Linked DNA regions of Homo sapiens: region 1 is linked to region 2. Evidence: fine-mapped expression QTL. Tissue or cell type: B cells. Region 2 holds a variant in brackets; the other region holds the start of a gene. All regions are shown on one strand. Distances are from middle to middle.

Region 1 (8,105 bases), 69 kb after region 2:
TCTGAGAGGGATGCATTTATGGGGGAGGTGACAGTTGGGGACATTTCTGATGAGGAACGTCTGCCATGTGGAGCCCACCCTGGGGCTGGAGAGATAATGGGGGCTCATGAGTTGGGCTGAGCTCTTACAGCAAAGGGGCAGTCAGCACAGTTCGAGACCTCTGGGCAACAAAGGTGTACAGGGCATCCCTTAGGGACAACAGCTCGCAAGGAAACCAGCTACCAACTGCCACAGAGTGCCCAGCCCTCGCCTCTCCCTGGGAGGGAGGCAGGACATCTGTGTTACAGCTGAGGAAAAGCAGGGGGATTAAACAAGTTCAAGGTCAGCGGCAGAGCTGAGTCTGTAAGTAGCATGAATACACACTTTGGAACCCTATTTCCAAGCTAGCATGGTCAAGCTGCATGGTTTTGTCACAAAAGGTGAGTTAACAAAAAAGGGCCTGCCCTCCAGAGCCTGGCCCATGGTGGGGCTTGGTAACTGTTGCATCCCACTCCCCAGCCCTGTAAAGGCAGCCAGTAACAAGGTTGGGCTGAACACTCCCAGTAATAGCATTAGGACGGTGAGCCACAGGCTGTTAAGCAAGGGAGCAGTGTCATCCACGTGGATTATTCCAGCATTTGTGCTTCCAGAAGTAGGTCAGAGAGAGAGAGAGAAGGGACGGCAGGAAAACAAACTAGGTTAAGAGATTGCTATGTTCTGGAGAAGAGGAAATGAGCTGCGGACAGAGGAGCAGCTATGGGAATGGAAGGCGAGAGGAACCTATGGCACCAAGTGGAGGAGGAATAGAAGGATGGCTGGGAGGCACGGGAGAGAAAGACAAGTTGAAAAGATAGCCGATATTCCATATCTAGATAGAGGCAATGTTTTTCTTCTCAAACTAAATTTTGAATTTTTTCAAATTATAAAAGATGCTGATAATGTTCATTATAAATAACTGGAAACAGGGCCAGGTGTGGTGGCTCATGCCTGTAATCCCAGCACTTTGGGAGGCCAAGGCGGGTGGATCACTTGAGGCCAGGAATTTGAGACCAGCCTGGCCAACATAAGGAAACCTCATCTCTACTAAAAATACAAAAATTAGCCTGGCGTTGTGGTGCGCACCTGTAATCCCAGCTACTCGGGAGGCTGAGGCAGGAGAATTACTTGAAGCCGGGAAGCAGATGTTGCAGTAAGCTGAGATCATGCCACTGCACTCCAGCCTGGGTGACAGAGTGAGACTCCATCTCAAAGAAAATTAAAAATTAAAAATAAATAAATAAATAAGTGGAAACAGAAGGACACAAAAAGGGGAAAGTAAATCGCCCACATGCCCTACACCAACAACTGACCTGTTGGCATTTTATGTTTTCCTCTAGTATCTTTATAAGTATATATGTGTGTACTTTTTAACAAATTGGAATTATATGCCATATACTACTTTATATAATAGCATTTTCATCTTCACGTCATTGCATATTACTGGAAAACACCATTTTTTAACGGAGACTCCAATTTTTGAGTCCTATGGGCCTTAAGTCGTATCACATAGCTAGCATTTTAGACCTCACTGGTTAAACATGGGCAAGCTACAAACTAAATTTAAAGCATTTTTAAACTGTAAATATTATACATATGCATTGTAGAAAGTTTGGGGGAAAAAAAGATATAAGGAAGAAGATAATCACCTATAATCCCACCACTCAGAGAAACTTCTTTTTACATTTTGGTGTAGCAAGAATAGATTTGAGACCACTGAGGTCATACTGTTCATGTATACTGATTACATTTCTGTATCTTGATGTTTTTCACTTAGTATTTGTATCAGCTAAATTTTAGTACTTTGTTGTACTTATTGTCAATATCCTTTTTATGATGAGAGAATTTTTCACAGCTAGAGCCAATGTTTCGATGAGCATTTTGACAAGAAAGACAGAAATGCCCCATTTAACAAATTTTGACATGAAGTTGCTCTGCAGTAGTTCATAGAACTTCTCAAACCTTCCCCTAATAACTTTATGCCAAGCACAAACTTTCTTTGATATCTGTTTTACCTAAATATGTGACTTAAAAAATTACCACAGAAATACGTGTTTATTTTAAAAAGAACCAGTACCAAAGATGAAAAAGTAAAACTTGAATCCCCCATCACATGCCCTGCATTTTCACTGCCCTTAGTTTGTTGTTTATTCTTCCAGACTTTTCTGGCACAAACACATAGATACAGCTTTGGTAGTCATGCAAATAGGGCTACTTGCTTTCTTCATCTAACTTATTCTGTTAACACTTATAGATCAACCTTGTTTGGTAATAGGTTCAGCATTATTCTATGCTGTGGAGTGTCATAATTTATTAAACCAACTTCCGTGTTTGGATACATAGGGTATATCCAGTTTTTACTTTTAAAATACTGCTTCATTAACTCAATTAAAAATGGACAAAAGGACCTTCATACATTGCTGGTGGGAAGGTAAAGTGGGGTAGCCGTTTTCCAATGGTGCAGCTGTGGAAAACGGTTTGGCAGTTATTCAAAACTTAAATATACAGCTGTTACCATAAGACCCCGCAATCCTACTTCTAGATATATACCCAGGATACTTGAAAATGTATGTTCACTGGCTGGGCGTGGTGGCTCATGCCTGTAATCCCAGTACTTTGGAAGGCCCAGGCGGGTAGATCACCTGAGGTCAGCCTGGGCAACATGGTGAAACCCCATATCTACTATACAAAAATTAGCCAGGCGTGGTGGCAGGTGCCTGTAATCCCAGCTACTTGGGAGGCTGAGACATGAGAACTGCTTGAACTTGGGGGATGGAGGTTGCAGTGAGCCAAGATCGCGCCACTGAAATCCAGCCTGGGCAATGCAGTGAGACTCCGTCTCAGAACAAAAAAAAAGAAAATATATGTTCACATAAAAATGTACATACTAATTTTCATGGCAGCATTATTAGCCAAAAGTGAAAGCAACCCAAGTGTCCACCAACCGACAAATGAAAAACAAAATGTCTATCCCTCCAGTAGACTGCTATTCAGCAATAAAAAAGAATGACGTTCTGACACATGCTACAACATGGTCAAACCTTAAAAACGCTATCCTATGACAGAAGCCAGACACAAAAGGCCACATATTGTATGATTTATTTATATGAAGTGTACAGGATCAGCAAATCCATAGAGACATGAAGCAGATGAGTAGTTGCGAGGTGGAGGGAAGAGAGAATAAGGGGGAAGGAGGGAGCTGAGAGTGAGTGGCTGCTTAAGGGGTATGGGATTTCTTTTTCGGGGTGATGAAAATACTCTGGAGTCAGTGGCAATGGTTGCAAATCCTTGTAAATAAACTTAAAAAACACTGAAATATATGTTTTAAAATGATGGGTTTTAAAACATGAAACAAAACGTGGACATCATATCTCAATAAATTTTTTTTTTTTTTTTTTTAGACAGAGTCTTGCTCTGTCGCCCAGGTTGGAGTGCAGTGGCGCAATCTCGGCTCACTGTAAGCTCCGCCTCCCAGGTTCATGCCATTCTCCTGCCTCAGCCTCCCAAATATCTGGGAATACAGGCGCCCGCCACCTCACCCGGCTAATTTCTTGTATTTTTAGTAGAGATGGGGTTTCACCGTGTTAACCAGGATGCTCTCAATCTCCTGACCTCATGATCTGCCCGCCTCAGCCTCCCAAAGTGCTGGGATTACAGGCATGAGCCACCGCGCCCAGCCCAAAGATTATTTTTAAAATGGACAAAAGGCTTGTGTAGTCACTTCACAAATGAGGATACTTATATGGTCAATAAACATATAAAAAGGTGCTCATTATCATTAGTCATCATAGAAATACAAAGTAAAACTACGATGTGATACAACTACTTAGCCATCAGAAAACCTAAAAAGCCTGACAACACAAAGTGTGGGCAAGGATGCAGAGACTGGAACTGCCTTTCTCTGCTAGTGGGAGTATAAGTCGGTATAACCACTGTAGAAAACTGGTTGGTAGGAGCTACTAAAGTGAAACGGATATAGTCTATGACCAGGCAATTCTACTCGTGCATACATACACCACAGAAAATAATGCTTATTTCCTTAAAAAAAAAAAAAAAAAAAAAAAAAAAAAAAAAAAAAAAACATAAATGTCATAGCAGCTATTCATAGAAGGCCTAAACTTGAAAGACCCAAATGTTCACCAGTCACAGACGAAACTGTGAAATGAGCATAGAATAAAAAATAACTGATACACACAATGTGGATGTATCTCAGACTTACAACTAAAAACCTCTTTCTAACCCCATAAGCTGTACTCAGAGGCTTATGTTGCCATGTGTCACCTGGATCAAATTTTAAAACTGACTTAGTGATTTTAAGTATGCTTAATCTCTTTCCTGATGCCAATATTAATGTAAAAAATATTGAAATATTTCAATTTGAAATATTTGAAATTTACTATTTCAAAATAAATTCATGTGTATTGTAGAAAAATTAGATTCTACGGATTAACAACAACAAAACCCCTCACCCATGCTCCCACCGCACAGAAAGACCTGCTAACACTGTGCCCTGTACTCATCTGGATGCTTTTCTGAGCATTTCAAAAGCTGGAGTATTTTAACCGAATGTCAGCATGCACATACCTTCCAGAGTCAGCACTGGGAGCCACAGAGCAGATGGTGAGAGGTGAGGACCAGCGCGCAGCTTGAGGTGTGAAGCACGTCTCCCACTGGCTAATCTCCTTATCTTCTCTGGAGTGCTGCTCAGCTTGCTTCCTTCCTCCACAGCACTTCCATGCTCCCTGCTGGGCACGCACTGCCATCTGCATCCCTCACTCACCCCTGGAACCTGCCCAGCCCCTCTGTGGAGGGAGGCCTTGGCAGGTTTGACCTCTGTGTCTGCGCCCACTCACTGAGCAGCCCTCACATTCACCTGGGCCACATGTTCTTAACATTTCTCTATTTTGGTCTCCTTGCCACTGTCAGCTTTGTAGAACTGATCAAGACTGTGGGATGAGTGCCTCCCTTTCCCCATTTTTCCACACATAAACTCCTCAGCCTCCACAGGTCTCCCTGTCCCCAAACATGACCTACTTTTTCCCATGGTTGACTCCCCACCACACACACACAGTCCTCCAACGGGACTTTGCTCCTTCAGTTCTCTTCCCACCTCATCAGCAGTAGGATGAAGGCAGGGATGAGGAGGATGTGGCACCTGCCCTCTGGGGCTCACAGGCCTACAGAGGAAATGGGCAGCATTTCTGGCTTCCAGTCCAGGGTAAGTGCTATAAAACAGGCATAAATCCTGAGTTATGGAAGCCGAAAACCAACAGTGATGGCTCCTCATGGTGTGGGGAAGGTCTAGAAAGGGCATGGAGGCCGCAGCTCAGGATCAGAAACCCTGCCAATTCTCTGCCAAGTAGCCCCTCATTCTGACAGTGTGGAAGCGCCCTGGAGACACAGCCTAAGCCAGCACTTATGACATATTTACTTCTTCTCTAAACATTTTAATATACTTTAAATGAGATATTATGAATCTATAAAGATTCTAGCATCTTTCAGTATGACCGTAAAGAAAGGCATACAACTTGTACACTTAAGAGACATGTCATCTCCTCGCAATGAAAGAATCTGACCCAATTCATTTGGTAATTAATTTTATTGATTAAAGTATTACAAAGTTCTACTTTTCATTTTTTCATGTACAATGTATTGAAATGAACTAAACTCAATCACTTATAATATAAAAAGACATTATTATGTATTAGCAGGGTGATGCTTCATAATCATGTATTATTCCTACCTCTAAGACACCAGTCTGTATTATAGAATCACAGCTGTCACCTGTGACTGTCAGAAACAGAAGGTGCAATTGGGATTCTTAGGTTGGTGACAGAATAGCACTGGATCCACAGGCCAGAGACTAGGAGTGCTTATCAAATGAGGTTTTAGGCTCTGAAAGGAAGGAATGAGAAGGTGTGCCGGGACAAGGAATAGCCAGTTCCCATAAAACTTGGGAAACGTAGATTTCTCAAAAGTAGGGTCCGACACAATTTTTTAGTTACTTTTTGAGAAAATTTAAAAATAAATACATTGAAATGCTGATTAGAGAGCGAAAGTAATTTAGGTTGCTTTTTCAATCTGAGGTTGTTTTAAAAAAGTTATTGTATGAAAGGTATTAAAAAATAAAAAAATTATGGTGAATATGTTGGCAGGTAAGATTTGAAGTTCTTTCAGAGAAGATAAACGGCATGGCAATTAAGCTTTAATAATATATTAGTTTTAAATAGATATACATATAAAAATACTTCAAATGATTCATCTCGGATTGAACACTCTTAAAAATTAAAAGGGTCAGCCGGGCGCGGTGGCACACGCCTGTAATCCTAGCACTTTGGGAGGCTGAGGTGGGCGGATCACGAGGTCAAGAGATCGAGGCCATCCTGGCCAACATGGTGAAACCTGTCTCCACTAAAAATACAAAAATTAGCTGGGCGTGGTGGCAGGTGCCTGTAGTCCCAGCTACTCAGGAGGCTGAGGCAGGAGAATTGTTTGAACCCAGGAAGCGGAGGTTGCAATAAGCCGAGATCATGCCACTACACTCCAGCCTGGCGATAGAGCGAGACTCCGGAGTCTCAAAAAAAAAAAAAAAAAAAAATTTAGAAGGGTCTAAAATAAACATTTTTAAATGCAGGGCATTTTCAGTAAAAAGAGTTCATGAAAACCTTCTGTCCCCAGCAGGCATGGGGCAAGAGAACTTTTGGCAGGTCACGGTGGCCAAACGGGATTTTTTCCTGGAAGACTCAGCACTAGAATCCACTTGCAGCTTTGTAAATGTACTCAGGTTTCACATGAACCTTAGAAAACTTGGAAGCCACTGTGTCCCCAGATCTCACTCCCTCCTGGTAGAGCCCTGCCACAAGACAGAACAGATCAAGAGGCACGTGGAAGAAAATATGAGCCCTCCAGGAATTTCAGTGAAAACCAGCTGAGATTCGAGAGTGAGACATGGCTTTTCCAAATACAGCTGGTGTGTGTGAATTCTTACAAAATTACAGGAGCAGCATTGTCACTGTGAGTGAGAGATGATGTGGTCCATTTGAGAAAAGTCTGTTTTCTTCCTTAAATCACATTCCAATTTCCACTGCCAATTAATAAAACACATCCCTCATATTGAACCTTCACTTAGCTTTTGAAGAAAAAGTGCATTGACTTTTTCTCCTGCTATAACCTATTCAGAAAGCCTAGCTTGAAACTGCTGGGGATCTGAATCATTTCCAGAGCATGTGGAGAGGGGGTAAAAGGAAATGTGACTTGAAAGAGATATTTGGTATCCAACATCAGCTGTGATGAATCCTCCCGGCTATTTAGGAGAGCCTGAAATTAGAATCAGAGGAAAAATGAGTAAGGAAACTAACATGTTCTGCTTTACTGCTACCTGAAAGTCAAGGCAAAACACAGCTATCTCTAGTGGAGAGCTCCTTGCACCATCACATGAAATGACATACATGAGAACTTTTTAACAACAGCACAATTCCAAAGTCTATCCAGGGCTTCCAGATCAGCTCTCAGAACAATTAACTTGTCCTGTTTCACTTCAGAAGTTAATTTCCCATGGGATGAGTTGACCATAAATCTGTTTTCTATTCTAATCTATTCTCATGGCATAATTCTAAGGTCAAACATGAGTAGATTTCAAGTATTACATTTTTATTGAACCCATCTTTCTTCTTCATTCATGGGTTTGCAACCTTTTTGGTCTCAGGACCGCTTTATACTAAAACATGACTGAGGCCCCAAAAGCTTTTGTGTATATGGGTATATTGGCATTTGCCATATTAGTAATTAAATATACATTGTGTATATGTGTATATCGGTATTTGCCATATTAGTAATTAAAATGATTTATTAATTCATTAAAATAAGCTCTACACATGTTAAACATAAGTTTCCAAAACAAAGAAAATTTAGTGAGAAGTGGTATTTTCTATTTTTGCAAATCTCTTTCATGTCTGACTTAATATATTATCATATATAACCATATATTATATACGCCATATTTTAATATATATGCTATATTATCATATATACGATATATCATATATATCTGCTTCTGCATTCAATCTGTTGTGATATGTTATTTTGGTTGA
Region 2 (8,105 bases):
CTCTCTGGGACTTCCTCCACCGACCGGGGCTGTCCCAAAGCCTCCTCTGAAGGCTTTCCCTAGGGTGGCTCTCCTCAATCATCCTGTCACCTCTTTCTTTGCCAAGCTCTTCCAAGGCCCTTAGTGGTTTCTGGGAGGTCTCACACAGAGGGGCTGGAAAAGGGCTCATTAGCCCAGATCAGCTGTTCTCAAAGCAAGATCCAGGGCCCCCGAGGGTCCCTGAGACCCTTTCAGGGGGTCCTCACGGTCAAAACTATTTTCATAATAATATTGACACTTTTTTTTTTTGTATGGGTGATTTTTTTATTTTCATCCTCTCAGGAATTTTCCAGAGACTACTGGCATGGGAGAAAGATCACCTTGATGGCTAATGGAACGTGTGCATCTGTATTCTTGTGTTTTATAACTTTTTCTCAGTCTTAATTTCTAATACAATAAATATGGATAGATACAATCCACAATGAGCAAGTTATTTGGGGTCCTCAATAACTTTTAAGGGTGTAGGCTGGGCACGGTGGCTTACACCTGTAATCCCAGCACTTTGGGAGGCCAAGGTGGGAGGATCACCTGAGGTTGGGAGTTCGAGACCAGTGTGACCAACATGGAGAAACCTGGTCTCTACTAAAAATACAAAATTAGCCGGGCGTGGTGGTGCATGCCTTGTAATCCCAGCTACTCGGGAGGCTGAGGCAGGAGAATCGCTTGAACCCAGGAGGCGGAGGTTGAAGTGAGCCCGAGATCGCGCCACTGCACTCCAGCCTGGGCAACAAGAGCAAAACTCCACGTAAAAAAAAAAAAAAAAAAAAAGTGTACAGAGATCCTAAGACCAAAAAGTTTGAGAACCACTAGCCCAGACGAAGCTCTAACTGATGAGAATTACTAATTTGCTATATGAGTGGGGGCTGCCTATGGATGGGGAGGAGATGGGGAGAAAAGAAAGAGCTGGGGGAAGGGGAATGGGGAGGAGATGGGGAGAAAAGGAAGTGCTGGGGGAAGGGGAATGGGAAGGGAGGAGGAGGGAGGGAGAAACAGCAGAAGGGGAAGGAAGGAGACCAGGAGAGAGGTGGAACAGGGAGACAGAGGAAGAGGAGATGAGGAATGGGGGAAGATTGAGAAGGGTTAGAAAAAGGAGTCCGGATGAATGAGGAGAGGGGGAGGGGGCAGAGAAGAGGAAAGAGGAGATAGGAAGGAGAGAGGAGGCGATGGGAGGGAGGGAGGAGGTGATGAGAGGGAGGGAGGAGGGGTGACAGGAGGAAGGGAGGAGGAGATGGGAGGGAGGAGGAGATGGGAGGGAGGAGGAGATGGGAGGGAGGAGGAGATGGGAGGGAGGAGATGGGAGGGAGGAGGAGGAGATGGGAGGGAGGGAGGAGGAGATGGGAGGGAGGGAGGGGGAAATGGGAGAGAGGGAGGAGAGAGGGAGGAGGAGGGGAAGGGAAGAGAAAGAGGGAAGATAGGTGGAGGGAGAAGGGAGGGGGGCAAATAGGAAGGGGACTGAGGAGGACACAGGGAGAAGCTGGGAACTAACCCTTCCTGAAGATGTGCTAAAGGCTGAGGTAGGCACTTTACATATTTTAGTCCCATCCCATGTTACAAATGGGGAAACTGAGGCTGAGAAAAACTCAGATATTATCATATATTCTGTGACCGTGACAGAGGTGGGTGTGAATGAAGGCCAGCCCTCTTATGTCACCAAGGCATCCCTCTAACTCACAGAGGAGTCCCAGTATCGGTGGTGCCACCTTTCAGCCAGCTGGCCTGGCAACTATGAGAGCCCGGGACACAAAGGCCCTTACAACCCTGTGCTGTTTTAAGCCACTTATAACCTAGAGAAGGGTGCAAAGGAGGTAGAAGAGCGGGAAGAGGGCAGTGGCAACGGGATGCCCACCTCTGGCTCGCCTGGGAGAAGAGGGACGGCTGCCAGGGCCCCACCGGTGAGAGGCTGACCGCGCATTCTAAAGCACTGGACTTGGCTTCATGTCACAGATATTTCCCATAAATACCCATCACCCACACCTTTCTGCCTGAACTTTCTTTTTTCTGGCCCAGGAGGGGGCTGCCCAAGGCTCTACACCCCTGGGGGCCCATCTGTTTGGCCCCTTCACCACAATTGGTTTGGTAGGTTTATCCCCAAGTCCTCTGGAAAAAAGAAAAGCTGATTATAAAATGCACTCAGCATTATTTTCAATCTGCAAAATACAATCTATCCCATGGAGCTTACCCCTGAGTCTCCACATGCTGTCACATAGTCCAAATCAAGTATCTCATCAGCAAATCCCGACAGCACCCACTGCGAGAGCGCATGCTCACAGCGAAGGAGGCTTCCTGCCCATGCGGGGAGTGGAAGCATTCTCTGGAATACTTTCCCTGGGCCCTTAAAGTGGCTTTTTGGATTGGAAAGTCACAGTCTACTTTGCACATATCCTGAAGATGCTCTCCACCTCTCCAAACATGGAACCTGGAATGTGCTTCCCTGGGCCACCTTTCCTTCCTTTCTCGTGCCTTCCTGCACTTCTGGGAGCCGGAAGGCACAGTGCAGAGACAAAAAAAAAAATGGCTGTGGGAGAGAGGGTTGGGGATGCCACCACAAGGAGGCCAGCTGCACCAGGGGCCACTGTGGGACATTCTGGAGCAGAGCTCAGGAATCCCATGGTGCCCTGACCCCTTCAGCACCTGGCAGGAGCTGGCCAGACACTGGGCCCATTTCCTGAGCCCCTGCCCAGACTGGAATCTACTGGGACTAAAAAGCACTCTCTCTGGGCTCCCTGGAGGAAGGCAGAGGCCCTTCATTTTTCTCTCTCTACCCCAGACCCCAGTGTACAATAAAACCACCAGTAACTGCTCTGCAAATGATCAAATATAATTATTATGTTTATTTGAAGTGAGATGATGGAAAAGATGGCCTGGCTGATTTTGGACCGAGTGGCCCATCACGATACCTGAACAAGCAGTTGTGAGGGTGGGCCTGGCACACCCCTGGATGTTTACAGGAGCATCTGGTCCAGTCCTGTCTTATGGCTGTGCCCAGCTCCAGCTCT[G/C]GAAGAGTCTCTCTGAGGAGCAGGGCCTGGAGCTGGGCCTGCAAAGCCAGAGCTACCACTAGAAGAAGGGCTGGGCTGGAGCAGGGCCAGGAAAGGAGACCTGTCCAGGGGACAAGGTGCACGCAGCCTTCAGGTGCAGCCAGAACCTGCCGGCAGACCCCAGGCCACCGACGAGGCAGGCCTCACCAGGAATGACACCTGGTGTCTGAGGTGACCTTTTATTCCCCTAGGTGCATGCCATCTTTTTAAGTGAGAAGTTTTCTAAAGCAAAGAATAAGCATCTACATCTTACAAAAAAACAAAAAAAGGAAAAGAAGGGATCCTATAACAAAAAGCACTTCCTTCTTCTAGAAGGAATTCTGAGTCTCAAATAAAGAGAAGATCTTCTTTTAATATCGTTTTTCTATGTAAGAGGAGCAGACGTTATTATTCATGACTATCAATCAATCTGCATATGTAATTATAATTGCAATGCAATACATATGAATATAATTTTTTTTTTTTTTTGAGACGGAGTCTCGCTTTGTCACCCAGGCTGCAGTGGCTCGACCTCGGCTCACTGCAAGCTCCACCTCCCGGGTTCACGCCATTCTCCTGCCTCAGCCTCTCCGAGTAGCTGGGACTACAGGCGCCCGCCACCACGCCCGGCTAATTTTTTGTATTTTTTAGTAGAGACAGGGTTTCACCGTGGTCTCGAACTCCTGACCTCGTGATCCGCCCGCCTCGGCCTCCCAAAGTGCTGGGATTACAAGCGTGAGCCACCGCGCCCGGCCATGAATATAATTTATATGGACAAGATTCACTTTAACCTAAGTGTTTCCACTAATTCTACTAATAGGTTTTTAAATAAGTTTACTATCTTGTGTTCCCACACAGAAGACTTTTCTTTGCTCTCAGAAGCATTTGTTTACAAACACCATTGGCTTTCCCTTCAATTCAGAGAAAACGCCCTGTCCAAGTGGCACAGTGACATCATCATCATCCATGAGTCAAACCACCTGTCCTTTTTAGGCATTTCTCTGCGTCATTTACAGCAGTTCACCATAGACAAAAATGTTGTATCTGAAAAAAGACAATAGAACAGGAAGCTGAAAAAGATACTTTTACAATAAAAACACATTCTAAAAAAATGATTTTTGTCTAATTACATTTGGAATTGGAATTTGCTTCTATCACAGACCAGTCACCAGTCCTCAGTCCATAAAATCAGCACTTCCAGAGGAAGGTTCCAGGCATCACAGTGCACATCGAGAAATATCAGACTTTAAAGTGCTCTGAAAATGAATTGATTCAAAGAAATAATATGGAATATATTAACTGCTGAATTCTACTGGTGACAGAATGAGTTGAGGCTACTATAATTTAGAATAACCTTAAAAACAGATACATTTTAAAAAGTGTTCCAAAAGAAAAATACTGTACTTGAAGGTATTCTCGCAGTGCTGAAGGCTCACACTAGTGTATTTCCAGAGGTGACAGTTTTAATAGTCATATTGGAGACGCTTAGTGACCTGTGAGCCATGGGTTGCTCCCCTAAGCTACACTGCAATAAACTCTAAGCTCCTCTAGAAGTAATATCTATTTACATGTGAAGATTTCAAATTCTCAGGTATACATGAGTGCACTGTCAGAAGATGATTAGGCCCAGACCTGTGAAGACACAAACAGATAGTTTTTAGACCTTTGTAGTTAACAACTTATAAAACTTGAGCTTAAAGAGATAAAATTAGTCTATTCACACACATGCATGGGCATACATATATGTGTGTGTACACACACACACACACAAACATACACACTCCATCCAAAATAGGGTGCTCATGTGCCTTAGAAGGATAACACTGTACTCCTAGCAATGCAAAGGTGCTTCTTTGGACCTGATCTTCTCCTCCCTTAGTTAATTGTCTGTGGGGCATCTGCAGCCTCCTTACGGGCCTAGCTACTCTTCCAGATTGACAACCAAAACCATTTGAACCCATACAGCTCACCATATACATTAACATGACTACTCACTTAGGACACTCTTACCCAGGAAGATGAACTCACAGATAACTTTTTTATTTGTTTCAGGAATTTTGCAAAAATCCTTTTCTCTATCCTAACACTAGACTACTCAACTTACCCTCTTTAGAAAACACACCCATGTCTCAGGACAATATAGAGCATCAAATGACTATTTAGTTTTAAAGGGTTTGTTCGAAACCCTCCCCCACCCCTGCATCCAGCAATCCTAAAACTATTATGCCACAAAGTTGTCCAATCCTAATTAAGTGCCCCCCAACAAAGACCTGCCTTAAACCAGACCAAAAAAACCTCATGCATGCCTTTGTCATCCTCTTCTGAGATGCCACTACACCTCTACCAATTCTTGATGTTCCACACTGAGGTAAGCAATAAATTTAGCTTTGCTCTATGAATGGGCTACTTTTTTTTTTTTTTTTTGAGACAGAGTCTTGCTCTGTTGCCCAGCCTGGAGTGCAGTGGGATGATCTTGGCTCACTGCAACCTCTGCCTCCTGGGTTCAAGCGATTCTCCAGCCTCAGCCTCCCGAGTAGCCGGGACTACAGGTGCATGCCACCACGCCTGGCTGATTTTTGTATTTTTAGTAGAGACAGGGTTTCACCATGTTGCCCAGGCTGGTCTGGAACTCCTGACCTCAAGTGATCCGCCTGACTTGGCCTCCCAAAGTGCTACAATTACAGGCATAAGCCACCATGCCCAGCTTAAACAGGCTATTTTGGTAGTATTTTGGGTGAGCCAACACTCAACAAGGTTATGGAGCTCTCTTTGAGAATTTAATGAAAGCCACGAGGACAAAAGGCATACACCCCAAATTTGGCATATAATTTCAGGGGCTTCATTTCCAAGATTAAGCTATAGAAAAACCAAAAAAAAAAAAAAAAAAAAAAGGAAGAAAAAAGTAATAATTTCAGGGGCTTCACAGCCTCCTGGATTTGTGACCCTTGTCATCACAAGGTCAATAATCGTAATAAGAACCCTATACTATAGGAGGAGAGACTGGTTATCTGTGGTTTGCCAAAGGCTAGAATCACAAGAATCAGACTTTTAGGGTCAAAAGGAACTTTCTGGATGATCAAGCCTAACTATTCCCTCACCTACAGGCTGATACGCAGTTGTCGAATCTGTGCGAGAATACCTGCACTGATGCAGCACTCGCTACCTCTCCAGGCAACCCATTCCCTCTGTGGCTGTGGGCAGAGTGGAAATGAGAGCTCGGCGAGGCTGACCAGGCCCACCTGAGCTTACTCTGATAGCCTTCCCTCTGCTTCAGAAGGCCTGTCACCAGTCCTCTCTCCTCTCACACACAGGAAAACAGAAAACCATCCCTCTTACTCTGAGGGTATGATCCCATGATCCAGAGCAGAAAGCAGTCCCATCGGGGGAAACTCGTAGAGTGCTAACGCGGTTTTCATGTCCAAACAGGATGGAGACCCGGGACCCTTTGAGAACATCCCAGACGTTGATAGTGTAATCATTGTATCCAGCAAACAGCAGGCGACCTTGAAGCAGGGTGAGATGATAGCTGTTAAGCCAGTTCCTTGCTTCCTGTTTCTCATTACATGACTGTTACTCACTCATTCAGTAAGCAGTGATTCAGGCGCACTGAGTCCTAGGCACTGTGCTTTGCCTCAAGGATTCAAAGGGGAGAAAGCACAGTCCCTGTCCCTGTTGGAGGATGTGGGGCTGAAAGGAACAGATCACTGTAGCATCCCATGGTAACAGCCATAATGCAAGTGCTTTACACACGTAAAGTGCTATGGGACCAGAGAGGAAGGGGGATTAAGGAGGGCACTGCAGACACAAGTAAATTATTTTTAGTCATTTGCTAGTTAACAACTTGTAAAACTTGTTTAAAGAGAGAAAGTTAAAGTGACATTTGAGTTGGCTCTTGAGGGTTGAATCGGAGTCTGTCATGCAGAGAAGGCAGGGAAAAGATGTTCCAGGCAGTAGCAGGAACTTCACGTGCAGTTAGTCTAGGGATGTGTCTGGGGAAATGGAGTGGTCCAGGTAGCCAGCCTGTTACCTCTGCTTTAACTTTCTATTTTTCTTTCTTTTTTTGACATGATCCTTCTGGAGCTATGCTTTTTCACCAGCAGCTTCCCACAAAGGAGCCATGAGCTTCAAGGCACTGAGAAGGGACTCATTTTTTTTTTCCCTTTGAGTCAGAGTCTCGCTCTGTTGCCCAGGGTGGAGTGCAGTGGCACGATCTCAGCTCACTGCAAGCTCCATTTTCCAGGTTCAAGCGATTCTCCTGCCTCAGCCTCCTGAGTAGCTGGGATTACAGGCATGCGCCACCATGCCCAACCAATTTTTGTATTTTTATTAGAGACAAGGTTTCACCATGTTGGCCAGGCTGGTTTTGAACTCCTGACCTCAAGTGATCGCCTGTCTCGGCCTCCCAAAGTGCTGGGATTACAGGCGTGAGCCACAGTATCCCACCAAGAAGGGACTCTTGCTTCACCTCCACCTTACAGAAAAGTTCCCTTTGGGGCATGAAGAGAAGCAAAGGCTGGGGAGAAAATGCCTGAGAGCATTGTGGAAGTGAATTTCTGACACTTCATTGCCTTGAAGGACAGCATTAGGTGGGTACACAGCCTTCATTTCCCCCTGGAGTGAAGTTGCCTGGGGCAGGACAAAGTGGGAGGTCAGAAGCTCAGAGGAGGAAAACTGGTGCAAATATGGATGATTTCGCATACTGGTCCACAGGAAGCTCAGTTGATGAAAAGGAACTGAGCGATGATGGAGCGCTAGTTTCATTCTGGTCCTGTCTTACAGTCCTGGGAAAAGTTTCTGAAATAAAATCTTACCACTGAGGGAGAAGTCCACGCTGGATGCTCCAAATATGATGCTTTCTTTGGAATAGATGGCAACCTCCCTATCTGCCCGCAGGTCATAGAGGCGACACTGGGGAGCAAATAAATAAAGAAGCACTTACTTCTGGCTTCAGTTTGGTGACGTGATGACCACAGAGCTACAGGTAGGTGCTAGTGACTTGCGTAGTTTAAAAGATGAAGGAAAAACTTCTTAGTTTTCCCTACTGTTATTTCA

Alleles and levels. Positions count from the first base shown, and alleles are read on the strand shown. Sizes are in standard deviations (SD) of each study's normalised expression.
In carriers of allele G in region 2, the expression in B cells of the gene that starts at base 4,670 in region 1 tends to be higher than with C alone (large effect, 0.89 SD a copy in Fairfax 2012).

What was found. PIP is the estimated chance that this variant, and not a neighbour inherited with it, causes the effect.
Region 1: GNB5 starts here. The variant in region 2 is fine-mapped to the expression of GNB5 in B cells (Fairfax 2012, PIP 0.95). The same link has a PIP of 0.9 or more in monocytes after LPS.

What each region holds. Positions count from the first base shown.
Region 1 is chr15:52,186,723-52,194,827 of GRCh38, forward strand. GNB5 (G protein subunit beta 5) reads right to left here and starts at 4,670. Exons shown (of 13, transcript NM_016194.4): 1 at 4,600-4,670. It overlaps MYO5C (myosin VC), which reads right to left. Exons shown (of 41, transcript NM_018728.4): 41 at 5,600-7,332. The coding sequence ends at 7,180. The region is part of intron 2 of CERNA1 (competing endogenous lncRNA 1 for miR-4707-5p and miR-4767); the gene reads left to right. RefSeq lists an enhancer at 4,768-5,267.
Region 2 is chr15:52,118,084-52,126,188 of GRCh38, forward strand. GNB5 (G protein subunit beta 5) reads right to left here. Exons shown (of 13, transcript NM_016194.4): 11 at 7,865-7,961; 12 at 6,390-6,556; 13 at 1-4,685. The coding sequence ends at 4,674. Among named protein-coding and RNA genes, the nearest start is that of BCL2L10, 9.4 kb to the left of the region's middle. The variant G/C (reference allele first, on the strand shown) is at 3,036.